Linked DNA regions of Homo sapiens: regions 1 and 3 are each reported to be linked to region 2. Evidence: microRNA targets listed by miRTarBase, many of them from high-throughput screens and not tested one by one. Region 2 holds a microRNA gene; each other region holds the end of a gene's coding sequence.

What was found. The annotated mature microRNA hsa-miR-4731-3p reads CACACAAGUGGCCCCCAACACU and lies in region 2 at 6,015-6,036, shown strand. An mRNA with a match to its seed (bases 2 to 7 or 8) in the 3' UTR can be bound and repressed. Matches are read on the target gene's strand: a 7mer-m8 pairs with bases 2 to 8, a 7mer-A1 pairs with bases 2 to 7 and ends in A, and an 8mer does both.
Region 1: the mRNA of ZBTB40 is a reported target of hsa-miR-4731-3p. Seed matches in the 3' UTR shown: 7mer-m8 at 6,511-6,517 and 7mer-A1 at 3,342-3,348.
Region 3: miRTarBase lists HCN4 as a target of hsa-miR-4731-3p. The part of its 3' UTR that is shown has no 7-base or 8-base seed match.

Annotation. Positions count from the first base shown.
Region 1 is chr1:22,523,289-22,534,153 of GRCh38, reverse strand. ZBTB40 (zinc finger and BTB domain containing 40) reads right to left here. Exons shown (of 18, transcript NM_014870.4): 17 at 9,710-9,936; 18 at 3,000-7,952. The coding sequence ends at 7,758. Among named protein-coding and RNA genes, the nearest start is that of EPHA8, 35 kb to the left of the region's middle.
Region 2 is chr17:15,248,388-15,257,669 of GRCh38, reverse strand. It overlaps MIR4731 (microRNA 4731), which reads left to right and starts at 5,974; the gene lies at 5,974-6,043. All of the region lies in intron 3 of PMP22 (peripheral myelin protein 22), which reads left to right.
Region 3 is chr15:73,313,266-73,323,647 of GRCh38, reverse strand. HCN4 (hyperpolarization activated cyclic nucleotide gated potassium channel 4) reads left to right here. Exons shown (of 8, transcript NM_005477.3): 8 at 1-3,789. The coding sequence ends at 1,167. Among named protein-coding and RNA genes, the nearest start is that of MIR12135, 19 kb to the right of the region's middle. RefSeq lists a silencer at 4,628-4,677.

The sequences.
Region 1 (10,865 bases), not on the chromosome of region 2:
CCAACCAATCAACCAACTAACCAAAACCCCCACAGAATTTGTAGGCGCTGGGATCTTTAGATCTTGAGTCTGGACAGACATGGGTGTTTTGGTATCTGTTTCTCATTCATATATAATCCTTACCTGGCTGATGAGTCCTGTAGGAGCGGGAGCCAGGCACCATTTTAGCCCGGTAACAGGACCTCACCGAGTCCCAGAACTTCAGGTCTAACATACCTGTGCAATCAGGCACCTGATGTGCCAGGCTAACTGCTGGGTACACACATGTGCATGTAAGAGAGAGAACGAGGATAATGCACAGTCCTTGCCCTTGAAGGGGTCGCAGTTTAGCGGGGGAGGATCTTAAGTCATCCTGTGACAATCTAATAATCCCATGCTCCCAAACCCACATGTGCTCTTGACATCTCTCTCACCCCCACATACTCATACGTGCACACACAGCTCCCGTCTCCTCAGCTCCAGCTCTGCCTTTCTGGAAATGCTGGCTTGGTGTGGACCCTGTGTGGAGCACAGGGGTTTCAACCTTAAACAAAATGAAAAGCTGTTTGGTCCTGTGCCAGCCCCACAGGCCCCCTTCCCCGCCCCCTGCCCATTTTTATCAGACCCTCCTGATGGCAGGGCTGTGAAATCTCCCCTGGAGGGGACCGTGGGTCCCTGGACTGACCTTGTCCTGATGTGTTTGATCAGCTGTTTCTGGCCTGCGCCGGGGGAGCCAGAGCTAGAAGAAGCGGCAGGAATGGTGTTTGATCAGAGCAGCTGGGAGTGGTGGGGCCTGGCTGGCTGCTCTTAGCCTTCTGCTAATCTCTCCTCAGAGGACAAAGAGAGGAGGATGTTCTGACAGACCAGCCCACGGGTAACTTGGGGTACAGCCTCAATGACCAGAGTAAAATGTGGAAGTTGGGTTCTCCCTGAGCCGAGAAATGAAGGTAAGCAAGAGGGGTACCACTTGGTTCTGGCAGAGCCTCTGTGTGCCCAACACAGCACTCCTAACTCTCAGAGAAACGAGGGCAGTAAATAGGATGTGGTCCCTGTCCTCATACTGGTTAGAATCTCAAATGAGATGAAGCTGTGTGAGGATTAAGGCACCAAATACACAACTGCATACCTAGGGTTTCAATCGTGTAGTGGATGGATTTGGGACATCGCAGAATACAGATTTAGGGAGTGACAGGGAAAGCTGGGGGAAGTTCTTTCTCCACGATGGAGCTCAGGATTCTAGCAGCACACGCAACCCCGCCAAGTGCTGGCTCTGCCTCACAAGGTTGCAGACATGAGGTGGATGGAGAGTAGATGGAATAATAGCGTATTCCACGACTGGCTAGAAACAGCTCATACTGAACATGTGGTGCAGAGCTGCAGAATAGGAAGCAGCTCCTCTACCCCTCGGAAGAGAGAGCCCAAGGTCAGAGTCCCTGTCTCCAGCAGTCGGCAGCATCTGCTAAGCATCCACTGAGTACTGCCCAGTCTGAGTATGCGGAGGAGATACAGAGGTCTTGGTGGGCATGGGACCTACACCTGCCCTGGTGAAAGGCCAAAAGGCAGGACAGATGCACGAAGAAAAGCCTGCAGAACATTCTCGAGAACATGAACTTGGTTTCTATGTCCACGTCCTTATAACCTCTTCATCTCTTAATGAAGAGTAAAGACCCTGGTCTAGGACACCTCTGCATGGTGCCAGAGCCCCTTTAACCTTTCACTCCAAACATATCCTGAGCATAAGCCCATGGAGAAAAGGATAGACAGTGAACACTAAAGAGGCAGAGAAGCCAAAAATCACTGCAGACTTAGTTTTTCCATTTCCTTTGCTCTCACTGGATGTGTCCCCACCCAACATTCCCAGGTTTCTGCCTTTACTCAGATGCGACCCCTCTGCTGCAGTGCCAAAGAGCTGAGAGCCCCTGTTCCAACCCGGGAGATCCTGTTCCCCTCGTACCACTGTTCACTCTGGCCTGGGCTGGGGTCTCTGGGTTTATGCCTCCTCTTACCCTGGTTTTGGAGACCCTTGCACTGGGTTTCAGACCCTGTTATCTAAGGACACATTAGGTACCTCCTTTCCAGCTGTCCTCCGCCCCAGCTCTTCCTTTCCAGCTGTCCTCTGCCCCAGCTCTTCCTCCAGGCCCTTCTAAAATATTATAAACACGAACAGCCATCATCTACGAAGCGTCTATACTCTGTCAGATATTTTACAAATGTTAACTTTCTTCTCATAGTCACTGTCAGGAAAAACTCGCCCAAGGTCATCTGTCTAGTAAGACGTGGAGCTAGGAAGCTCCCAAGCCCATGTCTTTTCCACCATGCTGCTCAGCTCCTTCCAGCCAGCCACCTTGGCCCAGAAGATCACTGAGGGAACCCCTCGGCCCACTTCCTAGCTCTGCTCAATCCCACCCGACCTGCAGCAGCACTTCACCTCTGCATACCTTCAAATGTGGCTGGGGCCCAACTGTATGTTACAATTACCCACTGCAGCTGGCTGGGACACTCTCAGGACTACTGCCCAAAATATGACATAGGCAGCTCCAGCCCTGCTCTCCAAAGACAGCACTTAGGCAGGGCAGCATTCCTTCCTAAACACACTTGCGGACTCTGAACAAGGGTCCATCTGTGCTCCTCCAGAACTGTCCCAGGAGGAGTGAGCATAGAACCTCCCCAACTCCTCTGCTCTCTACAGCGTCAGGGCTGCGGGATCTGATGCCCCTCCCCTCGTCTTAAACACTGGGTGCTTCCTGCAGAACTCATGTACATCCCATCCGGGTCTCCTGCTCTTGTTTCCTTGTTGGCTGCCAGCAATGTGACATTTTCAGCTGTTCACCAAGAAAGGTTTAGTTTATTTTACAGCTATCTGCTCAGCACTTTGTACTTTCGGGGCAGTTGAGATTCAAGAGATAAATGAAAAGTGGGTGTTATAAGGATCCCTTAAGGCTTCAGAGAGGAAAAAGACTACATAAAGATACAGGAATGAACATTCTCTTTAGTGCCAGAGAATGCAGGGAATAGTTGACTTGTATGCCAAAAACTTTTATTAATAAAAGCTAAAATTTTCTATATTAAATACATTAAATCCAGACTTTTAATTCATACTACAATTCTGTAGGGCAAGCACAATCATTTTCCCCATTTTATAATAAAGTTGGGAGCCAGGAGGAGGGAGCTCAGAGAGAGTAAGCATCTCACACAATGTCAGTTAGACAGCGGGACAGCTGGATGTACCCAGGCTGGACACCAAAGCCTGTGCTCTGAAACCCTGCCCCACACTTGCTCCCTGGGAAGGAGGGTTTAGGAATGAGACTCCAAGTGACAGGAGAGCTTTCTTTCCCCCAGGCCATGTTAACACGGCCTCAAGGTACACAAATGGCCCCTAGGACACCAGGCCTATCACCCCTGTCCCCGTCTGACACTGGCCCAGAACCAAAGAGAAAGCAGGTCTATAACATCACAGTCCATTTGAAACTCATGTAGCCTAATTTTTTTCAAAGTACATATTTTATTTATATAGATTAGTGCAAGCTGAACAAGAATATGGTTTGTAATCCAATTTATACAGCATCACGTAGTGGCTGACTGTCCTGACCATGGGTGGAAGCAGGGATGACTGGCCTTGGTAAAGGAAATGACACACATTCCCCCAATTTGGAAGCAATCTTAATTAGCCAGGGAGTGATTTTTTTCCTTCAGCAATGTAGTCCCCAAAGTACAGACAGCTTCTCTCTTCCTTATAGGCCGAGTCGTAGGAGTAGCAAGCTTCTAAATTTTGGCTGTGCCTCTGAGCTTTTGGCCTAAGTCCCACCAGCCCCGAAGTTTCCATGACAACAAAACAAGGATCAACGTGCCTCTGACACTCCCTTCAGCCCCAAATTGTTCTCTTACTCCCATTTTCTTCCTACCTCCCAAGTATCACTGGGATACAAGCAGAACAGGGCTGGGGTGCTGAACTCACCCTTGGGGAGGACTCATTATAGCATCCCTGCTTTTTCTCCATTATCGTCCAACTGCCTAGGCCCAATTTAATAACATGCTGCTTGTCTCCCTGGAACCGCCTGCCCACTCTATACATGGTTAGCACTTCCCTCCCTCCTTTGGTCAATGTGCAGCTTCCAGGCACGTGAGGTTTAAACACACACCCGCCACCCCATTAGCCTGTCTTCAGCTTGTGGTGACCACGTCACCAGCCCCCAGGTGAGAGACGAACTCTTAGGGCCCTTCTCACCATTCTCCTTCCTTTCTGGGAGTCCCTGATTGATCCCGCAAATAAAGGGCAGGGACCTGTCTCCCCACTGTCTGTCTGACTGGATTTCTTTTCACCCCTCAGCCCCGATTATCAGAACTCTAGCCCGAGGCATGAAGCTGACATGCCTTCCGTGGTCAGTGGGAAGTCAGAATGCTTCCTCAGAGGAGACCTGGATTGCCAGGGAAACCTGGTACTCACACTGCAGACCCTGCTACTCACTGGGCTCAAAGTTTCCCAAACACAGAGCTTCTGAGACAGAAGAGAGAGGCTGTCTCTTCATGTCTCTTTACCCATAAAATAAATGAGTAAAGACCCCTGGTCCCTGCCCCTCTGGTTCCAGGTTCTGCTCATGCGCGTGGACAGTAGGAGTCTCACCTTCCCGCAGTAATCCTTGCTCTTGAATCATCTATTTGCTGTCTCACTTACCTATGATGGGCAAGTCCTGTTCCATAACTGACCCCAGTATTCCCACAGAATCACACTCCAGCCTGGAATCTGACTGCCTTTCCCTCCTCACCACCTGGGCCATGAGCTCTGGGAGCAGAGGTCTGGGGACCCACCGAACAGATCCATGTGTTCCAAGAAGCCCACAGACTCCTTCACACCACCCCAAAGGCCCCAGAGTTCAGTCCAGAGGCCATAAGGGCAGCAGCCTATGGGGAACGAGGCAAAAACAACACCGGGACCCCATGGAAGCGAGCGATGTGGACTCAGGAGACCACACAAACACTGTCCTCTATGGCAGCAATTCAGGTCTCTTGGGCAGAAGTAGGAGAAAAGGATAAAATGGCCAAGCAGAGTCAGAAAGTTTTCCTATAAGATCCATGCCTGGGCTTCTCTAGAGAGCAAGACTATAAAATCAGTCAGCCAGTGCGGAGCCCACTCAGAGCAGACAGTAAACTCGGGAAGGGCCTTCCCCTCTTTCTTGATGAGAACCAGCACTGGGTTTGTGCCTTCTGCTGAGTGTGCCATGGGCCAGAGGGCATCTGATGGGCCCCGGCAGCCAGTCCACTCTCGGCACAGTAAGCTGCAAATCTGGTGATTCCGAAGAAAACAAATGTCTTGTCACAATCTGGGTCTCCAACAGAAACCTGGCCAGGCGTAGTGGCTCATGTCTGTAATCCTAGCACTTTGGGAGGCCCAGGTGGGAGAACTGCTTGAGCTCAGGAGTTTTAAACCAGCCTGGGCAACATGGCGAGACCCTGTCTCTACAAAAAAAAAAAAAAATACAAAAACTGGCCAGCAGTGGTGGCTCACGCCTGTGGTCCCAGCTACTTGGGAAGCTGTGGCAGGAGGATTGCGTGAGCCCGCAGAGGTTGCAGTGAGCCAAGATCGTGCCACTGTGTTCCAGTCTGGGTGACAGAGCAAGACCCTGTCTCCCCCAAAAAAAGAAACCTGAGAAAGAATTTCTCAGTGCTTGAAAGGATCTGACACTGGAATTCAAAATTTACAGCCCTCTTTATTCCGAAGAGTTTTTTTTGTTGTTGTTTGTTTTTTCTTTTTAAATCACTTCCCTATAAGCCCTCAGCAATTATTTCTAGTTTTGTTTTGGAAGAAATTTTAATGACATTCACTGCAACTCCCAAGCCCCATCCCACAGCTTGTGAGGGGCTGGATTCTCATCCACTGGACTTGGCACCAATGCCCTGTAAGCATGTGCCACTCTACGATCTTTCAGTGGGTTTTCTCTGCTGCCAAGGGGATATTCAGTGCCATTTTGCCACCTGCAGATCAAGAGCTCTCCCAGACTGACAGTTCCCAGGACGGAAAAGCCTTAATACAGGCACAGCCTTGGTAGAAACAGTGAGCCCTTCACATGGAGATGAAGTCTTAAAGGTTTGAGCACCATCTTCTGGTCAGTTTTTGGCTTCTGAGGCCGACTCTGCTTTAGAAACTTCATTTATTTCAGAATGGCAGAACCCTAATTGACAAGCTCAAGTGATCTGCGTATCAAAATGTGGACAGGACCAGAAGCAGGTGTAGTCGGCTGGGATGAGCTGTCCCAGGCTGGCCGGAGCTGGCGCTCGCTGTGGAAACCGTCGGGGCTGCCTGCACAAAGCCGGCAGATGCCAGTCAGTGGGCGTGCTGGTCAGTAAGGCTGTGCCTTCTGCGCTTCAAGCAGGGTGAGACCTGACCATGTGGGAGCAATAAAAGCTTCCATGGTGACCAAACGTGACTCCTGCCTCTGTACATGGCAATGTGAGATGTGCCTGGAAGGAAGGGGTGGCCCCATCTCTGCCAGTGTGGGATCCAACCAGGCACTCCCCTCCACAGGGGGTCAAGCCACACAAGGTGGCAGACAGCCCTGCCTGGTGTGTAAACACCGCACCAGCAGACTCCAACCTTTGGCATGGAAGGAAAAGAAGATAAATGCTAGTCATTCTCTCCAAACGGCAGGAACCTACATCTATCTAATTGCACTTCATAATGGATTCCACAAACCATTAATTATCAGATTATATTTTAGGAACTGAAGATAAAAAAAGCTTTGTGAAATTCAAACTCCAAAGGATCACTGACCTGCAATAAGTGTGGCGGCCTGCGGGAGGTGAGGCAGCAGGCCACTCACAAGGCAGGGAGTGGGCGGCAGCAGAGCCACGGGCAGTCACGGCTGCTCCTCCACACGCAGACAGGACTGCCTGCCTGGTGCTGGTCACAGTCTGCACCATATGACCCAGAGGGAGCCAGGCTGCCAGGTCAGGCAGAGATTTCAGCCTTTGATTAAAGGAAGGGGATGAAGATGACACGGAAGAGCTGTGGGAACCAGGCTTCAGGTAAGGAATACCAAGAAGAATGTCCTGGAAAGGCAGACACTGTCTAGCAGCTGATGCCTCACATTAAACACTTCCAGCAGAAACTCCAGAGCTTTGTTTTGGGAAGAGCTGACAACTGACAAGGGGTTATCAGGCATGGAAATGAGGGCTACCTGTCCTATAGCCATCAATAGGGTGCTGGGCGTGGCCACTGGGTGGAGGGGGAACCCCAGCAGAGGGTAGGATGATAGGACCGAGGAAGGGGCCAAGTGTGCCTCAGGAAGGGGCCTAAGGTCCCCGAATTGTCTGTTGGTGCCCCTCTCACTTTAAATGGCCAGAGGCAGTGGCAGCATTTGCAGCCCCCACTGTGGGCCAAGTCCCATATCTAACTGCCATTCTGCCCACTGAGCGCTGTCGGCACATCATGCCTCCTGGGGTACCCTGGTCACCAGCTCCCATCCCACTGCTCTTTCAGACTCTACTTCTGAAGCCACATGTCACTTGGGGATGGACAGTGTCATAGAGGCCGCAGCAGCGGGCCTGTGGGGAGGGAGGCCTGTCTGCTACAGAGGATGGTGCTGTTGGTGTTGAGGGCTCAGATGCTGTTGGTTCTATGAGAACAACGAAGCTTCCATCTGTTTTCTAGGTGAGACTGTGTTGGTTGGTGCTAAGCTAAGATGCTCACCACTCAGGACAGCCAGGGATGGAGGGCAAAGGGCAAGCTGTGGGGCCTCCTCTCTGCTGCAAACGCAGGAAGGCTCTGCCGGATGAAAGGCTGCTCATTTGGCCTCACCACAGATCAGCGTCACTGTGCCATCCAGCAAGTCCTCCACAGTCACCGCCACGAGCTCAGAGCTGGCCTGAGATGCCTGAGAATCTGGCAACGTCACAAACACCTGCGACCCGGCAAGCTGGGTCTCCTCCAAAGTGATCACCTGCTCTGTCGGGGCCACCGGCTCTGGGGTTTGGATCACCTGAAAGAGAAAGACCGTGAGGCTGCTCTGGGCAGTGTTCACAGTTGGCTCCCTGATTTACATGGTTTTCATCTCATGCTGTAATGATGATATTTATGTTTTCACCTGAGGAGAGCACTTACATGTGCCTAATGGGAAGAGGCAAGTCTAACCCACTGGCGATGCAAAAGAGAAGGCCAGCAAACAATTTAAATAACTGTGCACTAAATTGCTATAATTTTGCTCAGTACGCCATCTCGGGGCGCCCGGACTCTATGATTATACACCAGCGAACACTGGCTCTGTTTTTCACACTGGGCTTTCCTGTCTTGGGATGACACTGCAGAGGTGAGTGCCATGTGAGAGGAATGCCACTGAAGCCAGCTGGTCTCATGCCTGGAACATGGGAATGGGATTGATCCACCACAGGCCCAGGTGGGCCCGGGGCAGCCTCTCTGGACCTCTCGCAGGCTCACAGCCTTCCCAGGAGGCCACACAGTGACCGAGCTTAGGAGGAAGACTGGATGAACTGTGACTCCACGCATTCATTCAGCTCACCAGCCTGGCGGGGCCAGTGCCCCCTTCTCTCCTCCACAGCCCACCTATGTCCCTTCCAAATCTGCATAATCTGTTAGAGACCACCTTTCCAACTGAGAGAGAATGAGTCTGTGGTTAGGCATATCCAATTCCCGCCTAAGCCTCCCAGTTGATGTTTCTAACCCATAGATCCCAGAAGAGCTAGATGCCCTTGATATTTTTAAACTAGAGGCCACAGCCACCTTGCTCTTGAGAATCAGTGAAGAGCAGAGAGCAGGAACAAGTGAGGAAGCCAAGCCCAGCTACTTCTCCGTGCTACAGGAGAGAAGAGATCAACTGTGATGTTCAATCAACAATGATCCAGGATAGTAGTTTTCAAACTGCTTTTCTTTCTTTTTCTTTTAGAAATGGACGCCCCAGCCCCACCTTTTCCCCAAAGGACATATTATCAAGAACCATAATATACAAAAAAGATAAAAGCAGAGCACCTTTGGTTGATATGACAGCAGAGTGTTGGCGGGAGTCCTGCCTACCTGACTTCCCCTCTGTTCCCCAGAGGCCTGTAAGAACCTGGTTTATAAATGACTGATCTGGAACTGGACAGCGGGACAGTCTAACAGACCAAAACCTCAATCAGTTTATGGTTCCTCTCCAACCCACCCACAAATTACTGACGATGGATGGACCTGAATTTATTTTCCTTTTCTGCCCACCCTCTCTGGAGAAGATGGGAAGAAGAGTAAAAGAGGATCTGGGAAGCAAAGGGAAGCTGGATCAAGCTTAGCCCTGAAGCATCAAGAAGAGGTGGTTTTTTTGCCCAGGTAAAGGTGAGAGGCCCAGGTGTGTGCAAGTGTGTACTGTGTCCTGCCCAGAGGCGCTCTCCAAGCACTTCAACTGCAGGCAGTCCCTGCCCAACAAAGTGTTCCTCTGTCTCCGAGGTTTCCCGCAGTTCTCACCACACCCCACGGTGTTTCTCAGGAGGCAGGGACGTATGCACTGGGAGGAGGAACCAAGCTGTTCCTCTTTTGGAAATTATTGTTCCAGGCTCCCTCTACCTAAGGGCCACTTCCCATGTGGCCACCAGGAGACTAGAATTTTCTGTTCTGTTTTGTAAGAAGTCCAGAGAGACTCTCTACAAGATCCCCAAAGAGTATCTCTGGGTACTATGACAGAGCCACCTCTAGAGAAGCCTTAGGAACCATGCATTAGCATTCTAATGTAGCTGATGGCCCCAGAATCACCTGCGCCATCTGTGAGGCTGCGGCCTGGGTTTCCGTGCTCATCACCTTTGGGTGCTCAGATTCCAGGTGACTGTCAAGCTGGGCCTGGGAGGTGAAGAGTTCCCCACAGAGCTCACAGGGGAAGGTGGTCTCTGACTGCTTGAAGTGCTCCGTGGTGACATGGTGCTGCAATGCTCCAGGAAAACGGAAAGTAGCAGCACAGTACAAGCACCGGAATGGCTGGGACCCTGGAGGAGAGGGAGACAGAAGGGGAGGGCTGTGGGTAAAATTCTCTGGGTAAAATGAGAGAAATGAGGGCAGGAAGACATGAGAGGAAAGAGCAATGAGGATCGAGGCTTGGAGGCGGATCCACATTTTGTGGGACACGAACGTTATTCAATCTGGGGGGCCTTAAGAAAAATAATACAAAATGACAAGGACAGAGCCTTGGAAGGGTCCATGCAAGTGAGGGGCCCTGAGATGACAGTTTCATTAGTATCAGATTCAGGCCAAATCTGCCTCTGCAGAAGCCCATTATTCATTCAACTGCAGATAAAGATGCTGACGATACTATATTTCATCAATTCTAAGAAATACATTTTAACATCTCTGAAGTAGGATCAATGGCACCTTATGACTTCTGTGGGCTAAGGCAGTCAGGTGCAATCGTCAATGCGCACACCAACATCAAAAGTGGCAGCATCAAGACTTGCAGAATGGGCATCCACGGCTTGGAAGAAACTCCCTAAGACAGGAATGGTGCACGTTTTTAACTCATGGAAACCAAATGGTTTAGAAGGGAGGAAGTAAGTGATGAAAGGTTAGCTATATTCCCAAAGCAGGAATCAAAAGTAGACTAGTTTTACATAACGCTCAAGAGACCAAAACGAATGGCCTTCAATTCTTGATGGAATCTTATATTATGCGTTCCATCATCAATGTTCTTGATGGCAGAGTAAACACTGTGTGGAAAAACATGCTTGTTGACAATCTGAATTGAACACTACTCTGAGAAGCTGGATTCTTCCCTTAATCAGTTTTTTTATGTTTTCCTTTGTATGTATGCACACTAGAGTGAGTGACATGATAAAAATCTATGTCAAATTAGTCCAAAACAGCACTTAGAATAACGTAGAAATTCTAAGTGATAAGAAAGCACAGTTTAACTGGCAGTAGT
Region 2 (9,282 bases):
AAATGAAATACTCATGAGTGCCTGAGAATGTGACCGTAGCACTGCTTGTCCCCAAAGCCACAGCATCCGGTTTCTCCCCCTTTAGGGTCTGGCTGAAGTTCCCGGAGCACTCCGGATGGGAGTCTCCGTACTCGCTACTGACACCTGGTGGTTACAAGTAGTGACTCAGCCCGAAAAGGGCAGGCTTTGGTGCTCACAGGCGCCATCCCCAAGTGGCATCTGGCCACGCGGCTTGGCACAGAATCCTGGACTCTTGGGCCCGGAAGGGGGCAGTTTTGGCAGGCGTGTTAAAACCCGGCGAAGTTTCAGCAGAAACGAGGCGGCAGAGGAGTTGCTAAGTTGTGCTTAAACCATCTGCAGGAAAGAAAGCAATATTGACCTGTAGCATGTTACAGATTGACATTTGGTGTCTTCTGCCGTTGGAAATAGCTGTCAGTTGGTGCTAGAAGCAGATCTCAAAGAGGCACTAGGGTTATTTTAATCAGGAAACTTCTTATCTCTCAACTTGTTCCTTCTGTGCCAAGCTCATGTTCTTGAGTTCATTTACAATGCCTCCTTAGTGTGGGTTTCAAATCTGCCTCGTTGCTTTCCGTGAGGACCCCAGAGTGTCTGTTTTCCACATCTCCCTTCTCAGCTCTCACAATCAGGGCATTTTGAAAACATCTGGACACTGCACCTGAACATGCTGGGTTTGTTTTCACGCCACTCAGGCTTAATCTAAATTTGAAATTTCCATTTACACTTCCCCAGTAGTGGTTATCTCTGCCGCTATCTTCCCCAACGTGGCAGCACTTGCTACGACTTCAGCCTTAAGTGGCGAATCCTCCAGGGCCTCTTTGATTGAGTTTAACAATTGTGGCTGCAGACAATAAGCTGAAAAAAATGTGTACTTTTTAAAACATTATACTGTCTTTACAAATGAACTATGCTCATTGCGAACCATTTAACTTGTCTGTATTTGCTCTTAGAAAGTATATTTGAAAAAAAATACTTGTTAAGTAATCAAAAGTAATTTGTTATTGACATCGATTTGTGAAGAATATGTTGCAAGTGTGAAAAAATAAATAGTGGTGCAATCTCGGCTGACTACAACCTCCACCTCCTGGGTTCAAGCGATTTTCCTGCCTCAGCCTCCCGAGTAGCTGGGATTATAGGCGCCCAACACCACGCCTGGCTAATTTTTGTATTTTTAGTAGAGAGGGGTTTCATCATGTTGGGCAGGCTGGTCTCGAACTCCTGACCTCAGGAGATCCACCCACCTCACCTCCCAAAGTGCTGGGATTAGAGGTGTGAGCCACTGCGCCATGTGACTTGGTATTTTTTTCTGAAAGGACTCATTTTTCTGGTGCATGACCATGACACTTCACCTCTCTCTGGGGGTTGCCACTCATGTTGTTTTCTACATGAATGGGGCCTCCTGGCATCGTGCCATGAGGCAGTCTAACATCTAGGTTGTGTAGTTTGAAAGAGACACACCAGATCTTGCCCCCAGGCTACATCTTAATATTAGAAATAGTTTTAGATTTTTAACTAACTGACTTTGACTCCGCCTGCCTTCTCGTTTTTCTAAATGTGTTTGTATACTTTCTGGCACCCCCTCCTTATCTGCCTCGTGTGGGCAGAGGTAAGAGAGGCTTAGTGTGGGGATATTCGTTATGATATTGTATCCAGTGCCTCTCCGGCCCAGGGAATACAAGGATCTGGAATGCATGGGCCTTGCCTTGATGGTCCCGAGCCTGGTCGAAGAGTCAGGAGATAGATATGGAAGGGTGAATCACTCCCTTGGAAGGCAGAGCAGGCCAGGTGCCCAAAGGGAGGCAGGCAGACAGCGTCTGAGTTCAGGGAGGAAGCGGATGGGAAATCTCTGGTGGGAGGTAGAATCTGATCCATCCTCCAAAGGATGGGCAGGATTTAAGTCAATACAGGCAACGGGGAGGAGAATATTCCCTGTGACCTAAGGTAAGGGTAGAACAAGGCAGGGGATGGGGTAGACTGGTTGGCTAGTGTTCTGGTTAGGATTAGGATTGATTGTGTATAAGAGAACATCTTCAAATGATAGGGGCTTAAGTAAGATCATTTATTTTTCTCTCTTTTCAAAGAAGTCTGGAAGTAGGTAGCCTGAGAGAGGTATGGAGGTTCCATGAAATTGTCAGAGATGCAGACACTTTCTAGCTCATTTCTTTGCCATCTCTTGGGTTTGGCTGTCATCTTCAGGAAACAAAAGGCTGCTAGAGCTCCAGCCATCTCATCCATGATTCAAGCAGTAGGGTGGAGAAAGGAGGTGGGGAAGAATGAATCTCCTTTTCTTTTAATGAAATGTGACATGGTCACACCTACACCTATTTACAAGAGAGGCTGAGAAATATAGTCATTCGGCCTTGGGGGAAGCATGGCTTTTCAAATCATAGAAACCTGGCAGCAAATACCTCTCTGTAAGCCTGGTGTGGAATACTTTCCTTGAGGGTTTGACCATCCCCTCCCATACCCAATCATACTCTTTTGCAATAGCTCAGTTGGGCCCTATGCAGTTCCATAAGTCCCAGTTATTTCAGCATTCTTCAAAGAGTCCATCTCTGCTGCATCCTGGGCTCTGTCAGCCACCCCACCATTCTCACATGGGCTCTTCTCAGAAACTTTAGGACCTGTTGAGGCTTCTCTCTCTCTATTTCTACCACCTCTCCAGGTATAAGTAAGTCTTATTATTATTATTGAGACAGAGTTTCACTCTTGTTGCCCAGGCTGGAGTTCAGTGGCGCCATCTTGGCTCACTGCAACCTCCGCTTCCCGGGTTCAAGCAATTCTCCTGCCTCAGCCTCCCGGGTAGCTGGGATTACAGGCATGCGCCACCACGCTTGGCTAATTTTTTGTATTTTTAGTAGAGACGGGCTTTCTCCATGTTGGTCAGGCTGGTCTCGAACTCCCGACCTCAGGTGATCCACCTGCCTCAGCCTCCCAAAGTGCTGAGATTACAAGCGTGAGCCACCATGCCTGGCCATCTTATTATTATTTAATGAGTCCAGACCTCTCTTCTGAATCCCAGACCTGTTTATCCAGCTGTCTCCTGGCCACTTCCCTTGGGATATCTAAGAGAGGCCCCCAAGTCACTAGGCCAGAGACAGTCCTTATCTTCCTCTGCCAATTCAACCCCTCTGTCACTTTCTAGTATTTTAGTGAATGCTGCTTCACCAGCCAGCAAGCCAAACATCTAGAGTCTGCCTTGACTTGACGCGTTTCCTTCTTTCTCTTCTCAGCATTGTCACGGGTCCCTCAGGCCACCCCATTGTTCCAATGCCTGTTGCCCACCTGTGGTCACGCTGCTTCCTCGTTTGTCAGAGGCGCCAGGGCAGCCTCCTAACTAGTTTGCCTGAACCCTTTCTTGCTCCTCTGTGACTCATTTTTCATATGGAATCCAGGCTGATATTTAAAAAAGCACAAACCTAATTATATCACTCCTCATTTTGAAACCTTTCAGAGGCCGTTCATTGGTCTTAATCTTCAGATGAAAATCTTTAACAAGGCCCATCGGAATCTACCTGAATGATCCACTCCTGCTTCTGTTAAGTCTCACCTCCCATCTCTCTTCCCCTCATCTTGGAATTTCAGCGTTTTCTCACGTCCTGAAATGTGAACTTCCCACTTCGGGAGTCTCTCCATTTCTCTTCTGATCTTTCATGCAGGACTATTTCTTGAACAACTCTCGTGTACCAGAGACTATTGCAGGTGCTAAGGTTACAAGAGTGAACAAGAGCTTATGTTTTACTGGACAAACCAGTCAGTAAACATGGAGAATTTGGGGGCAATGGTAAGAACTATATAAGACAGGGTAATGGGATAAAGAGGGATTGCAGTGGTGAAGGAAGGTCTCCTTGAGGAGTGGCCAGGAGCCAGCCATATGAACATCTCGGGGAGGTTCCATACAGAAGGACCGTCAAGTGCAAGATCGCTGGGGAGGGAAGGAGCTTGGCGTAGTTGAGGGACAGAGGGCAGGGCAGACTAGTGGGAACAGAGAGTGAGGGGTAAGTAGAATCACAGACCATCTCAAAGGTACCCCCCACCCCCACTAGGAAGGAGTTGGGTGCACATGGATGCATTTCTAATCTTTGTGATTTCCTTAGACCTGCTGTCTTCCACGGGTTTCTCAGTGGTCCATTTGATTCCAAGTTGGAGTGACAGTCCAGAAGCCTCTATAAGGCAGAATATATCAGAAATTGTACAAGGTAGAAATGCATCGGTATATTTTCAGTGATTATTTTGGGTGACGGGATTCTTATCACTTTGGCTGTTTTCTTTCTTTTGCTGCCTTACCTGTTTTCCTCATTGAGATCTTTTATTTTCACAATCAGAAAATAACTGTGAACATTTTATGTTAGAAAATTGGTTTTGAGTAGTAAGTAGGTTCCCTCTGCCTTGATTAAGAGAGTGGAGCCCTGGGGCATGGCACGCAGGGTCCATGGCGTCGCTTTGAATGAGGCCAGTTCCTGGAGCTTTAGTTTGCAAACTCATACAATCTGGAAGGCTCTGGTGAGGGGGAGGGGTGTGCCAAGCCTCCTCCCCAAGACCCTATGGGTGAGTTTAAAATCTACTGACCCAAAGGATTCAGGCAAAACATTTGCCCTGCTATTGAATGAACCAGTGCTTTTTGTTTTGAAGTCTCCAAGATCCAAATATCAAGTCCAAGTTCTCACAAGCATTCCCCTGCTTTTTGTTTAATTTGTGTGGACCTGACGTGTAGCAGAATGGGTCAGAATACTGGAATTAAGCCACAGGCGGCTTGGGAGCCCAAGAGCTAGAAGGGCACAGTCCTGGCTTGCCCTGGCCCCTGGCTGGTCTTCATCAGCTTCAGTGATGAGGCAGGACCCAGGCAGTTTGTCTTCAGTAAAATCTGTCTCTCAGGGCCTGTCCCTGCTCACAAAGTCCTCTCTTGTCTCAGAAGAAAAGGTAGTTGATAAACTTTTTCATGCTGAGGTGTTAGGCACAAAAAATGTGCCCCTTTTTGAATCACTTTTGTTTTTAAAAAGGAGGCCAGTGCTCAACACCAAAGCATGAAGGGAATTGTTGAGCTTTCCTGTAATCTGTCCCCAAACGTCCTTGGCCACCTCCATTGTCTAAGGGCAGTACCTGCAGCCCCTCATTTCCCAGTGACAACAGGTGGGTCTGCTCTGCCACAGTGTGTGGGCGGGACCAGCACCAGACGCTGAGAAGATGACCACTTACTACTCTTCTTTTCCATTTAAACAGCAGCAGCAGCAGCAGCAGCAGCAGCAGCAGCAGCAACAGCAAACTCATGACTATCAATAGGTTGTGTGAGGAATTAGATCAATGCTTTGGGTTGAAAATTAGAGAAACTAAATCTTGCCAGTCTCAGCAGCCCCCAACCTGAGCCCTTGGTGGTCTCCTATCATCGCTGTCTTCAAAACGATCCCAGACTTGTTTATCAATTTGGTGACACTGTCATTTTGGCAAGGACACCAGACAATTTCCTTGTCTGTGGCTCAGCTTTTGGCCAGATTTTAGAAAACACGGGAGACCTTCTGCATTTATGGGTTCATGTTTTACATTTTAAAATCTTCGTGGCTCCCTCAGCCAACCCATAATCTCTACCCAAGGAATGGCTCTGGATTTTACAGGCTCTTATGAGATGCTGAGACCCTGGTGGTACAAGGGAGGTACAGAGGACGGAATGTGTTGTCAACATGCCAGGATTTCAACCCTTAGGGTTTCTCTGATGCCAATACCCAGGAATTAGTATGAAATGTTTGTTTGAACCTGTGTCTGAACTGTATGACCTGGAATCTATAGTCTTTGCTTTAAAAAAACTTCAATTGTATCCCCAAGATTTCACCAGCACCAAGAAAACATCCCTTGCATTTCAGGAGCAGGGACTGGCCATGGTGCAGCCTGAGGTTGTGGATGTTGATCTTTGGTGCCCGAGAGAAGGCTGTCTGGGATGAAGCCTTCTGACTGTGGTCAGGTCCCTGCCAGTGCTGGGGGCCACATGAGTGTGCAGTCATCCACACACAAGTGGCCCCCAACACTGGCAGGGACCCGGAGTCATCTGGCCCATCCCTCCTTCCTATCCCATCGAGCCACAGACCCCTCTGCAATATGCCTACCACATGTTCATCCTACCACTGATGGGGAACTTATTACCTTCAAGAGAGCCTCTTTTGTTTTTGAAGAGCTAATAGTGAGATCCATTCATGTGTTCTTCAACTCTATTGAGCCTGTCCTATGTACTGGGCACTGTTCTAGAAATGGGGTGCACAGAGATGAACAAGAAAGAGCAGGTCCCTGCCATTGTGCAGCTCACAAGGAGTTGGAGGAAACAGGCAATACACAATACATGCATCACTATGGGTAGTGGAACATGCTCTGCAGGAAACAAATAGGGTGATCCAATGGAAAGTCATCACTGGAGGAATGAGCTGCTCAGGGAAGGCCTCTTCCTTCCATAGTGATGTGGTCTGAGATTTAGAAGACAGGGAAGGACCAGTTATAGGAAGAACCATGGGAAGAAAATTCTAGGAGGTAAAGGGAAGAACCAAGGCCCTGAGTTAGCTGAAGAAAGGAGGGTGGGGAATGCGGGAGAGAGGGATGGGAGCAGGATCGCTGGTGCCTCACAGGCTGTGGTACTGAGAAGGACAGTTGGGACATCATTGAAGGGTTTTAAGCAGAAGAGTGTCATGATTTGATTCATGTTTTGTAAGCTCATTCTGGCTGTTGAGAATGAATTCTGGGGAGAGGCAAGAGTGGAAACTGGGGACCAGTGAGGAGTTTGTGGTCATAGTCCAGACTGGACATGATGATGACACTGAGATGACAATGATGACAATGACAATGATGTTAAGAATACAAACAGCTCACGTAAGTGCCAGGCATTCTTTGAAAAGCAATGCATTTAATCCTCACAAGAACTCTAGGAGGTAGCTGGTGGCTTAGCTAGGGAGGGGAAGTAGAGAAGAAAACAGGTCTCATGACAGGGTTTGCTGATGGGTTAGATGTAGGGAGTTAGGGAAGAATGATTCTAGATGACTCTACGTTTTGGGCTTGAGCAACTGGTGTGTAACTGAATCTTGGACTGAGATGGGGAGACTGGAGGAGGAACAGAAGATTTGCGGGAAGGTGTAGAAATCAGGATTTATATTTTGACCATCAGAGAGGTCAGCAAATCACTTCAATTTAGAAGTCTTTGGCTTAGGGGAGAGGTCTGGGCTGGAAATTCAAAGTCAAGAGTCATTCCTCTATACCGAAGGGTATTCAATGTTGTGGTGCTGAATACAGTTACTTGGGGAGGAGTTGAGAGCAGAAGGCAGAAAAGGGGAACAGGGTTCAGAGCTAAGTCTTGGGCATGCCAGGGGTTAACGAGGGTACAGGAAGGAGAGGAGACTGGGGATGAACAGCCAGTGATGAGGGAGGAATGCCAGGAGATATTGTCACTTAAGAAATTACCTCGGCTGGGCGCGGTGGCTCACGCCTATAATCCCAGCACTTTGGGAGGCTGAGGCGGGCGGATTACAAGGTCAGGAGATTGAGACCATCCTGGCTAACACGGTGAAACCCTGTCTCTACTAAAAATACAAAACAAAATTAGCCGGGCGTGGTGGCCGGTGCCTGTAGTCCCAGCTACTCGGGAGGCTGAGGCAGGAGAATGGCGTGAACCCGGGAGGCGGAGCTTGCAGTGAGCCGAGATCGCACCACTGCACGCCAGCCTGAGCGACAGAGTGAGACTCCGTCTCAAAAAAAGAAATTACCTTGTTAAACCCAACACTGCCCCTCTTTTGTCCATTCACTTCTAGTTGCCTTCATTCATGCCTGATGTGCTGGACTTGGGTTTTATCAAGTTGCTTGGCACGTCCTTAAAGAATTTAAATCTCCACAGTGCCTCCTGGACAATGACTGCAGGGTGACCCCCGTCTCTCCTCTACACGATGACTCTTCAAACAGTTGACGATTGCAGTTTTTCTTTCCTTCCTTCTTTCAGTGGCTTCTCTGGTGCTGGTCCCAGCTGCATAAGCAGGGCCTCTTCTTGCCCTTCTGAAGTTTGGTCAGTGGTTTGGCTTGGCAGGCTGATGAGCAGAGAATAAGGGAAGCCGCTCTCTCTTTGCCACACCATTCTCCTTCCACCCTCTCTAGTTTTTGTGGATTCTAAGTCTGAAGAATGGTGGTAGAATAATTTAATTCATTAGATTGCAAGCATATCATTGACTTCTCTGCACCCCCAGTGTGTTGTAGTGGAAAAACTAGTAGTCTGGGCATCAGGGAATCCTTGTTTTTCTGCACCGGGTCTGCCTGTAACAAATTAGGTAACCTGGGGCAGGTACCCTGGTTTCCTAAAAGCAGAGCAGGCATTGAGGTAGGACCTGAAGTTGAGGTAGGACCTGCACATTGCATGGGTCCCGGAGCCTCTGTTCATGTTCAGGATGTAATTGTGGCATCGAGGGATCCTAAAAGGAGGTGGCCTCTGAGCTGGGCCTTGGCAATGGGGTAGAATTGCAGTAGGCAGAGGGAGCAGAGATGGGTTTTGTGCTTGTAAACGGGCATTGGTTTACTGTCACTGGTGGGGGTAGCAGCTCTTTTGTTCTAGCTCTTCATTTCCATAATGCGTGTTCTTTTTTCATACTTTAGGGGAAAGAAGGAGGAGAACTCTATTATTTCTATGGGGAGAATTCCTCCTAAACCTGAAGATCTTAAAACTAAGCGAATTATTCCCTGTTCATTCTCCACTGATGCAGTTCATGACTGCAATTGCAACTGCCTTTCCCGTCATTTTCTATGGCCAAACTCAGTGTTTTTAAGTGAGCTCTTCTTTTAAAAAACAAAAACAAAAACAAGTCTCCTGATAAATCCGTTTGAAAGACACTAAGTTTTGAAAGTTAAGCAGGCTTTGATCATTCATGGTACATTGTGAATTACCAAGGAGGGAGATTGATATCCTTCATCGTACAATGCACTCCCCTCCTTTTTCTTTTGTATCTGGTGGAGTAAGTCTTCCAAGAGCAATTCTTAGAGAAACAAAGCCTACTCTGTTTCCCTGTTTCTAGAGTTTTCCAACAAGGGTATAAAAAAGCCTCAGACAGCTTACTATTATCCAGTAACCTCAGGTACCTCAGTGGCTGCGTGTTATTCCCTTTAGAAGTCCAAAAACTCACTAGCAGAGCAAGAATATGGATGTCAAAGTGCAGAACTAGACCCTGACAAACTAGCTCTGTGCCTGCCACAAAGCCTCTTAATTAGGAATGCAGTTCATTGAATAACTGTATCAAAGTTAGCTGGAATACCTTG
Region 3 (10,382 bases), not on the chromosome of region 2:
AACCTCGGTGCCGGGCAGACGCCAAGGCACCTGAAACGGCTGCAGTCCCTGATCCCTTCTGCGCTGGGCTCCGCCTCGCCCGCCAGCAGCCCGTCCCAGGTGGACACACCGTCTTCATCCTCCTTCCACATCCAACAGCTGGCTGGATTCTCTGCCCCCGCTGGACTGAGCCCACTCCTGCCCTCATCCAGCTCCTCCCCACCCCCCGGGGCCTGTGGCTCCCCCTCGGCTCCCACACCATCAGCTGGCGTAGCCGCCACCACCATAGCCGGGTTTGGCCACTTCCACAAGGCGCTGGGTGGCTCCCTGTCCTCCTCCGACTCTCCCCTGCTCACCCCGCTGCAGCCAGGCGCCCGCTCCCCGCAGGCTGCCCAGCCATCTCCCGCGCCACCCGGGGCCCGGGGAGGCCTGGGACTCCCGGAGCACTTCCTGCCACCCCCACCCTCATCCAGATCCCCGTCATCTAGCCCCGGGCAGCTGGGCCAGCCTCCCGGGGAGTTGTCCCTAGGTCTGGCCACTGGCCCACTGAGCACGCCAGAGACACCCCCACGGCAGCCTGAGCCGCCGTCCCTTGTGGCAGGGGCCTCTGGGGGGGCTTCCCCTGTAGGCTTTACTCCCCGAGGAGGTCTCAGCCCCCCTGGCCACAGCCCAGGCCCCCCAAGAACCTTCCCGAGTGCCCCGCCCCGGGCCTCTGGCTCCCACGGATCCTTGCTCCTGCCACCTGCATCCAGCCCCCCACCACCCCAGGTCCCCCAGCGCCGGGGCACACCCCCGCTCACCCCCGGCCGCCTCACCCAGGACCTCAAGCTCATCTCCGCGTCTCAGCCAGCCCTGCCTCAGGACGGGGCGCAGACTCTCCGCAGAGCCTCCCCGCACTCCTCAGGGGAGTCCATGGCTGCCTTCCCGCTCTTCCCCAGGGCTGGGGGTGGCAGCGGGGGCAGTGGGAGCAGCGGGGGCCTCGGTCCCCCTGGGAGGCCCTATGGTGCCATCCCCGGCCAGCACGTCACTCTGCCTCGGAAGACATCCTCAGGTTCTTTGCCACCCCCTCTGTCTTTGTTTGGGGCAAGAGCCACCTCTTCTGGGGGGCCCCCTCTGACTGCTGGACCCCAGAGGGAACCTGGGGCCAGGCCTGAGCCAGTGCGCTCCAAACTGCCATCCAATCTATGAGCTGGGCCCTTCCTTCCCTCTTCTTTCTTCTTTTCTCTCCCTTCCTTCTTCCTTCAGGTTTAACTGTGATTAGGAGATATACCAATAACAGTAATAATTATTTAAAAAACCACACACACCAGAAAAACAAAAGACAGCAGAAAATAACCAGGTATTCTTAGAGCTATAGATTTTTGGTCACTTGCTTTTATAGACTATTTTAATACTCAGCACTAGAGGGAGGGAGGGGGAGGGAGGAGGGAGCAGGCAGGTCCCAAATGCAAAAGCCAGAGAAAGGCAGATGGGGTCTCCGGGGCTGGGCAGGGGTGGGAGTGGCCAGTGTTGGCGGTTCTTAGAGCAGATGTGTCATTGTGTTCATTTAGAGAAACAGCTGCCATCAGCCCGTTAGCTGTAACTTGGAGCTCCACTCTGCCCCCAGAAAGGGGCTGCCCTGGGGTGTGCCCTGGGGAGCCTCAGAAGCCTGCGACCTTGGGAGAAAAGGGCCAGGGCCCTGAGGGCCTAGCATTTTTTCTACTGTAAACGTAGCAAGATCTGTATATGAATATGTATATGTATATGTATGTAAGATGTGTATATGTATAGCTATGTAGCGCTCTGTAGAGCCATGTAGATAGCCACTCACATGTGCGCACACGTGTGCGGTCTAGTTTAATCCCATGTTGACAGGATGCCCAGGTCACCTTACACCCAGCAACCCGCCTTGGCCCACAGGCTGTGCACTGCATGGTCTAGGGACGTTCTCTCTCCAGTCCTCAGGGAAGAGGACCCCAGGACTTCGCAGCAGGCCCCCTCTCTCCCCATCTCTGGTCTCAAAGCCAGTCCCAGCCTGACCTCTCACCACACGGAAGTGGAAGACTCCCCTTTCCTAGGGCCTCAAGCACACACCGCCACCTCTGGGGCCGTCAGTTTGCCCATCTGTACAGTGGGAGGTGAGCGGAACTTCTGTTTATTGAGTCTGCTCTGTGCCAAGCACTGGTTTCGCACTTTACACACATTAACTCCTTCAGTTTCACAAAGACCATGGGGTGGGTACTTTGATTCTCCCCATTTAGCAGAGGAAGAAACAGTTTTGGGTAATTTTTCCAGAATCATGTAACTAGGAGTGGCAGAGTGGGGACTGATTTGAGGTTCGAGTCCACGCCTCCTTGAGGCCCAAGTCTGTGTTCCTTCCATCAGAAAACTGTGTTGAGGGGGGCTGAGGTAGATGGTCCCCAAGCATGGTACAGAAGGAAGACACCAGATTTTGGCAGCAGTCAGGCCTGGGTTTGAATCCCAGCCCTGCCACTTCTTAGCTGTATGATCTTGGGCAAGTTATCTGACCTTTCTGTCACCTCATTTGTAAAATGGGAATAATTATGGTACTGCCTCACAAGGACCTATGAGGACCAGATGAGAAAAATCTATATGTGAAATGCCCAGCCCAGCGCCTGGCACATACCATGGTAGGTGCTCAATAAAAAATCACATTTCTTCTGCCCCTCATATGCCCAGCCTATTGCTCCAGCAAACTATGTGAGAGCCCAGGGAGCTTTGGCTGAGGGCTCCAAGACTTAAAATCTCAGGACTCAGGAGGTGGCTGGGCCTCCCTAAGGGCCCAAGGAAGGTGTGTGGCCAGAGGTGGGTGGGAGCCAGGCCTTGAGAAGTGGGAAGACTTCAACAGGGAGAGAGGGAGGGAATGGTGGGTGGGATGGAGTGTATGGTGGGGAGATTCCTGAGGTGGATGTGGAGTGGTGGATCAGGGCTTTGGGAGGGGATCCCCAGGCTGAGGGGTCAGAGGGACGGCCTTGGGTGATAGGGTAAGGGATTGTCTGGGCTTAGTCCTGGCAACTAGGAGCCATAAGCAGGTTCCAGATTGCGGGAACGAGAAAGCAGCTCAGATGCCTTTGGAGGCACCATCCTCCCTCCTCCCAGATGGGATCTTGCCAGAGCCAAGGTCAGGGGTCTGCCCCTGCCTATAGGGCCAGAGCAGGTATGGCTGCAATCCCCAAGTAATGAGAAGGGCTGGTCCCACATTATCCATCCAGAACCTTCCATGCTCCAAGCCAGAATGTTGGCAAGATCGGGTTTTGCCTTGAGCTATCCTGGGATGTGAGACAAACCGATTTCTCCATAGATGGGCTGCAGGGAGTGGGAGGCAGTACTCCAGGAGAGAAGTGGGTGAAGGTTCCTGGGATCTTAGGTAAAGACTAGACGCCGCCTAGTACTGGTCTCTACTGTGCTGGCTCAGGAGTTCTGAGAACTGGAAGGACTTAGCCTCAACCTGAGTTCTGCACACACCCCTTCCCCTTAAGGAAGGCAGCTCTGAGAGGCAGCAGGACTTGATCCAAACCCACAGTCTTGTCCTGGAGGCAGCAGGGGTGAAGGTGGAGGGTCCAGGGCCATGAGGAGCCCCCTTGCCATCAGAGCCTGGCCTAACCACCCTCTTCTCTACTTACACACACATGCATTTTATAATAGCTCTGACCCAACCTGGCCACTCTGCAGAGACTGGGACAGACAGGTGCAGGCAATGGGCCCTCCCACACCCAGTCACCTACAAGGAATTTTCAAATCCACTTTTAAAACAGAAACCGGTAAATGCGCCGTATTGTATATTTTATTTAAATAAAAAAAATTCCAGCAGATGCTACCTTCTTCTAGGGGCCAGGGATAGGGGTGGGGGTGAGGTCATTGGGAAATCCTGGAGTCTTGGGAACTCGGGTGTGGAAGGCAGGGGACATGGCCCAGAGGGCACTTGTGTATGTGCAAACCTATGCCTGCAAGAGCATGGAGCTGTGTTCTGTGCATAGAGGTGTGCACGGGGGATGTGCAAGGCCTGGCTATGGACACAGGTGTGCACGTGCTTATGGACTGGTGAGAATCATTGAGGAGGGTGAGAGCGAGTGGGCATGTGTGCTTTGCTAGTGGAGGGGAGAAACGCAGGAGTGGGGGAGGTGTGAGACCCTTCCCACCCCCTACTGCCAGGGCTGGCTGAGGAGGAGGGTGGTGAATGTGCACCTGGGCTCCATCCAGCTAGATAGAGGGGGATGCCGTCTTAGGTAAGCTCTCAGAAGTGGGAGGGTGGCTGGAGACACAAGGTGACTGGGCAAGGGGGAGGGCATCAGAGGGTGGCCGAGGGGTGGGGGAACAGCGCTGGGCTCCTGTGTGGGTTGGTGGGGGCCCGAGGGCAGAGGCAGCATGTGGGGCCTCTGGAAGGAGGCAGGGCACGGACTTCCCACTGCTGTGCCTGTTCGGGGCTAGGCCTGGTCCCCGGGTGACCCCCTTCCCCACCCCTGTCTCCAGAGGGTTCCTCCGGGCCCTGGGACTTCGCGGGGTCGGGCAGAGGCCCCCTCCTGGGGTGGCGACGGGCGACTGGAAAAACCAAGTCCTCGCGGCTCCCGCCGGTATAGGGAGTGCCGTGTCTCCCGCCCTAGGAGGGGAAAGTCCTCGGAAAAGGGCAGGAAACCCAGCCGTTCCCCATCACCGCTTGCCAGGGGATGCTGTTTCCATGGCAACTGGCCGGGGAGTCCCGTTGCTAAGGAGGCAGCTCAGCGGGCCCTGGCGTCCCCATGACAACTGCCCCCTGCGGCCAGGCGTTGGTGCTTCCTTGGGGACCCCCGGAGCGGCAGAGGCAGGGCGCGGCCCTGTGCTGCGATCACCTCCCCCGCGTCTGAATGGCTGAGGCCTGGCCTCTGGGGCTGTGGGGAAGCAGTGGGGACAGGCCCCGCTGAGAGGAAGCCTGTGTGGGTGGGGCATTCGCTGCGGGGTCCTCAGTCACTGTCTCCTCTGTTCCCTGATGCGGGAAGGACAGCTAGTAAGTACCTCCTGTGCGGTAGGCCCTGGGTCTTTCCTTTGCTGTCATCTGCCCAACCACCCCAGAGGTCAGAATTTCCCTCAGTTACAGTGAGCCAAAGGGAAAGGGGCTCAGAGAGGCAGGAATTTGCCAGCCCTGTCAGCTAGAAGAAAGGAGCGGGGCTGCACACCCAGGTGCCGGGGACTCAATCTGGTCTCGTCCCACTAGAGCCTTAGCAAGGGCTGGCGGTAGGAGCTGTCTGTCCCTGGTGCAGGCAACAAAGGGTGTGTTAACTGTAGAGAATTTTAAAAAGACGGTAAAAGTGACTAAATGTCAGTTTGCTTCCTCTGATCACCATGTACCAGCAATTCAGACAGTGTCAGTGATAGAATGCTCCCAGCACAGGGGCAGACAGCTCCTCCACCCCACCATGAGCACCCTATGCGTCAGCCCCAAGGGACACCTGCTGTGCTCGTGCTGCTGGCGCTGTGGGAAGGCCTGAAGGCACTTTTTCTCCCTAGTGGGGCTAAACCCGACTGGGATTTTTAAGGGACAATTGAAAGATGCGTAAGATCCCTACCTGGACTCCACGTCTCTTCCCAGCCGCTACTCCTCACTCTTCCCACCGGAGAGCTGTGTCCCCTCCCTGTCCTCATTTCCTCCTCCACCGCATGGCTCTGACAATTTCTGATGAATTCACCTGCCCACATTGTGAAATCCAGGGCCTCCTTCCCAGCCGGCGTCCTGCTGTCCTCTTAGCAGGGTGTGACCTCCTCCACCAGGCCCTCCTCAGCACATGGGACCCCATCCTCTGCTCACTGCTTCACCTTTCTCAAGCTCAGCCTCAGCTTGAAGGGCTCTTCTTTCTCCCAAAAGGTTGGTGCTCCCTGGGCCTCTGGCCTTGTCCCCCGTCTTCTCACTCCAGATGCACTTCCTGGGGTTAACCTCACCTAGGCCTGTGGCTTCCCCAGCCTGGAAGCAAAAGCTTCCCAGAGTTCCCCTACCCCAATTCAGGCCCCCGCATGCCCTGAGCCTCGGCCTGGGCAGCTGCTCCAGGGTCCCTCATTCTCTTCTGACTGACCACGGCCCTTTTATTCTTTCTTGGGTTTGCAGCTTCCAGTGCACTACAAAGCATGCCTTCTCCTCCACCTGCACCCCTTGTTGATTTTGCTGCTTTAATTTTCTTTCTCTTGAGGGTGGAATATTTCGTACCTACTGAAGAGATACATTATGTAAATCAGATATAAAAAATAATATCAACAGCTATGTACCAATCACTCAGTTTAAGGAATGGAACATAAGGAATGGAGCATAAGGAATACCTTTGAAGGCATCTATGCTGTTGCCCAAGTGTGTCCCTCTCCCTCCCTCCAAGGAAAACCTCTCACCTGAATTTTATCATTACTTTTCATGATACTCTTTCTATAGAAACAAATGACTCTAAAGAATGTATTCAGTTGCACACCAAGGTGGGGAGTGGAGATTGGAAGTAGCTGCCTTTGTGGCAAGAATTTTTATCAATAATATTGTCCAGAATTGCTGATGTATGGTGACAATAAAAATCAGATTTTGGTCAGTTTTATTATTCTTTTCTTTACAAACAGTGGGCCTTTTTATTACCTGCATTAGGGGTGGGCCATACCCACCATCTTCATACACCACTGAATATATTTGTAATTTTAAAACTTTGCATAAATGGTATGCTGCATGCATTCTTTAATAATTTGGGTTTTTTTCATTCAATACTGTAATTTTGAGATCCTGTCAATGCATGGATAGTTCGTTTTCATTGCTGTATAGCATTCCAGTATATGAATCGTCCACCATTTACATATGTGTTCTTCCGAACATAGACATTTCAGTCAGTTTTCATTCCTGTGATTAACAGGACTGCTGCGACAAATGTTCTTGTTTGTGGCTCCTGAAAAACATGGTAAGAGGATCTCTAGGCTCTGTATCTAGGAGTGGAATAACTGACTCACAGAGTAAATTAATCTTCACTTTACAAGATAATGCCAAGCTGTTTTAAGTGGTTCTAACAATTTCCACTCCCACCTGCAGAGTATGAGAATTGCTCTTGCTTCATATTCTTGCCAATAATTGGAATCATCAGGCTTTCTTATTTTTCCTAATCTAGTCATATCTACTTGTGTTTTAATGTGCAAATCCCCAATTACCAGTAAGGTTGGATGCTTGTTCGTATATTCATTTGCTGTTTGTGTTTCCTTTTCTGAGAAATATTTATTCACATATTTTGACCAATTTTCTATTGTCTTTTTATTGATTTGTCAGAATTTTACACATCTTTTTGAAAAACTAAATCCTTTGTCCGCTATATTTATTGCAAATATCTGTTTATGGTTTGTATTTTTGCTTTTTTTGGAGGGGTGTTCCCTGATAAACAGAAGCTTTACACTTTAATGAGGTCAATTTTGGCTATATATATATATATATATTTAATGTCTAGTACTTCCTTAGTGCCTTTTTTGCTTAAGAAACCTATCTTACCCTGATGTTGTAAAGATGTGTTCTATATTCTTTCTAGAAGTGAAGTTTTGCTTTTCACATTTAAGTCCTTACTCTAATTGACTTTGGTGTGGTGTGAAGGCGTAGTTCAATTTCTTTTTTGCCGCATATGGATAACCAATTTTTCCTACATTGTTTCTTGAATGAGGCTTGATTAATATGCAATACAATGTCACGTCTCTATCATATCTGGGTCTGTGTCGAGGCTCTCTATTCTGTACTATTAGCTTGTCTATCCCCATTCAAACAGTCAATTGTCTTAGTTACACTAGCTTTATAAAGTATGTTGATATAGAGTAAGTCCCCCACCTTCTTCTTCTTCTTTTTTTTTTTTCAGATGGAATCTTGCTCTTGTCACCCAGGCTGGAGTGCAATGGTGTGATCTCAGCTCACTGCAACCTCCGCCTCCCAGGTTTAAGCGATTCTCCTACCTCAGCCTCCTGAGTAGCTGGGACTACAGGCACCCACCACCATGCCTGGCTAATTTTTTTGTATTTTTAGTAGAGACGAGTTTTCACCATGTTGGCCAGGCTGGTCTCAAGCTCCTGACCTCAGGTGATCCACCTGCCTCGGCCTCCAAAAGTGCAGGGATTACAGGCATGAGCCACCGTGCCCGGCCCCCCAGCTTTTTCTTAAGGAATGTCTTGGCTACTCCAATCTCTTTGCACTACCACAGACATTTTAGAATCTGTTGAGGTACATGAAGAGTCCAGTGGGCTTCTGATTGAAATTACATTGACATTGTTGCGGAAATGTGTATTCCCATGGATGAACAGGGTATAACTTCCCACATTTGGGTCTTCTTTAATGTCTTTGGTATTAATGAGCACAAACAGCCCCAACAGAAAGAGCCACAAATTTCAAGGTTTAAGACAATAAAGGTTTATTCCAGCTTGGGTAAAGTCCTGTGCAGCCCAGGCAGCATTTTCCTCACTGATACCAACTTGAACTGAACCCCCATTCTCCAAGATCATTGTGGGAGAAGAAGAGACAACTAGATGAGATTCCCGCATCTGAACTACATCTCTCACCAGTGAACATCACTTGCTCTTATATTCCATTGTCACAAGGCCACAGCGTAACTGCAGAGGAGGCTGTGCTGTGTGGGAGATCACCTGCAATCTTTGCTGGGTATTAACTGTCCCTGCCAATTCTTTCAACACAATCTTATCATTTTCTTCATGAAGGTTTTTGCATTTCATTACATTAATTCCTAGTACCTTATATTTTTGTTGCTAGTGCTAATTCTATTTTCTTTCTTTTCTTTTCTTTTCTTTTTTTTTTTTAGATGGAATCTCACTCTGTTGCCTGGGCTGGAGTGCAGTGGCGTGATCTCGGCTCACTGCAACCTCCGCCTCCTGGGTTCCAGCAATTCTCCTGTCTCAGCCTCCTGAGTAGCTGGGACTACAGGTGTACGCCACCACGCCCAGCTAATTTTTGCATTTTTTAGTAGAGACGGGGTTTCACCATATTGGCCAGGCTGGTCTCGAACTCCTGACCTAGTGATCCACCTGCCTCAGCCTCCCAAAGTGCTGGGACTACAGGCTGAGCCACTGAGCTTGACCTCGTATTTTCTTTATTGAGGTATAACTCATATGTATCAAATTCAGCAATTTTATGTGCACAGCTCAATGAGTTTTGACAGACAGTACTACAACTACCTAAACGAGTAAGTCATAGACTCTTTCCATCACTCCCCAGGTTCCTGCATGGCTCTTTGCAGTCAATCCCCTCCTCCCACTCCCGAACCCTGCCAGTCTGCCTTCTGTCACTAAAGTTTTGACTTTTCTAGAATTTCATATCAGTATCATCATAAAGCATATGGTCTGTGTCTGATTTCTCTCCTTTAGCCTAATGTTTCTGATGGCTATGCCATAGTTTGTTTATTCACTCACCCATTCATGAACATGGAACTGTTTCCAGTTTTGGGCTATTAAGAATAAAGCTCCTGTGAAAATTTATGTTCAATTCTTTATCTGGGTGTGGATTTTCTTTTTAGGTAATTATTTAAATTGACAAAGAAAAATTGTGTAAATTTATCATGTACCACGTTTTGAAATATGTATACATTGTGGAATGACTACGTTGAAATAATTAAACTGACATACTTATCACATTACCTCACATACTTTCCATTTTTTGTGGTGAGGACACTTAAAATCTACTTCTGTCATTTTCAAGATGGATGTAGATTTTTGTTTATCTTAATACTCAAGGAATGGCATTGCTGGGCTATTTTTTATATATATATATATATATATTCCTTTTTTTTCTGTTTCTTTGAGATGGAGTCTCACTCTGTTGCTCAGGCTGGAGTGCAGTGCCTCGATCTTGGCTCACTGCAGCCTTTATTTTTAGTAGAGACAGGGTTTTGCTATGTTGGCCAGGCTGGTCTCGAACCCTTGTGATCCACTTGCCTCAGCCTCCCAAAGTGCTTAAATTACAGGAGTGAGCCACCATGCCTGGCCTGATAAATATATTTTTAACTTTATAAGAAACTTCACAAGATTCTTTTCCAAAGCTGGAATACTCTTTTGCATTTCTCCCAGCAATCATATGAGAGTTTCGGTTACTTCATATTCATGCAACACTTGATGTTGTCAGTCTTGATTTTTTACCATTCAAGAGAGTGTGTAATATTAACTCCTGGATTTAATTTGCATTTCCATAATGACTAAAGATACCGAGCATCTTTTCAGGTGTTTACTTGCTATCTGTATATGTTCTTTGGTAAAGTGACTGTTCGAATATTTACTCATTTGTTTTTGCTGAGTCACTTTATTGAATTGTAAGTAATATATTCAGGATATAAGTCCTTTATAAGATATAAGTTTTGCGATTATCATCTCCTAGTTTTTGGCTTGCCTTTTCAGTTTTTCGTTTTTTTTCTTTTTTTGAGACAGAGTCTTGCTCCATC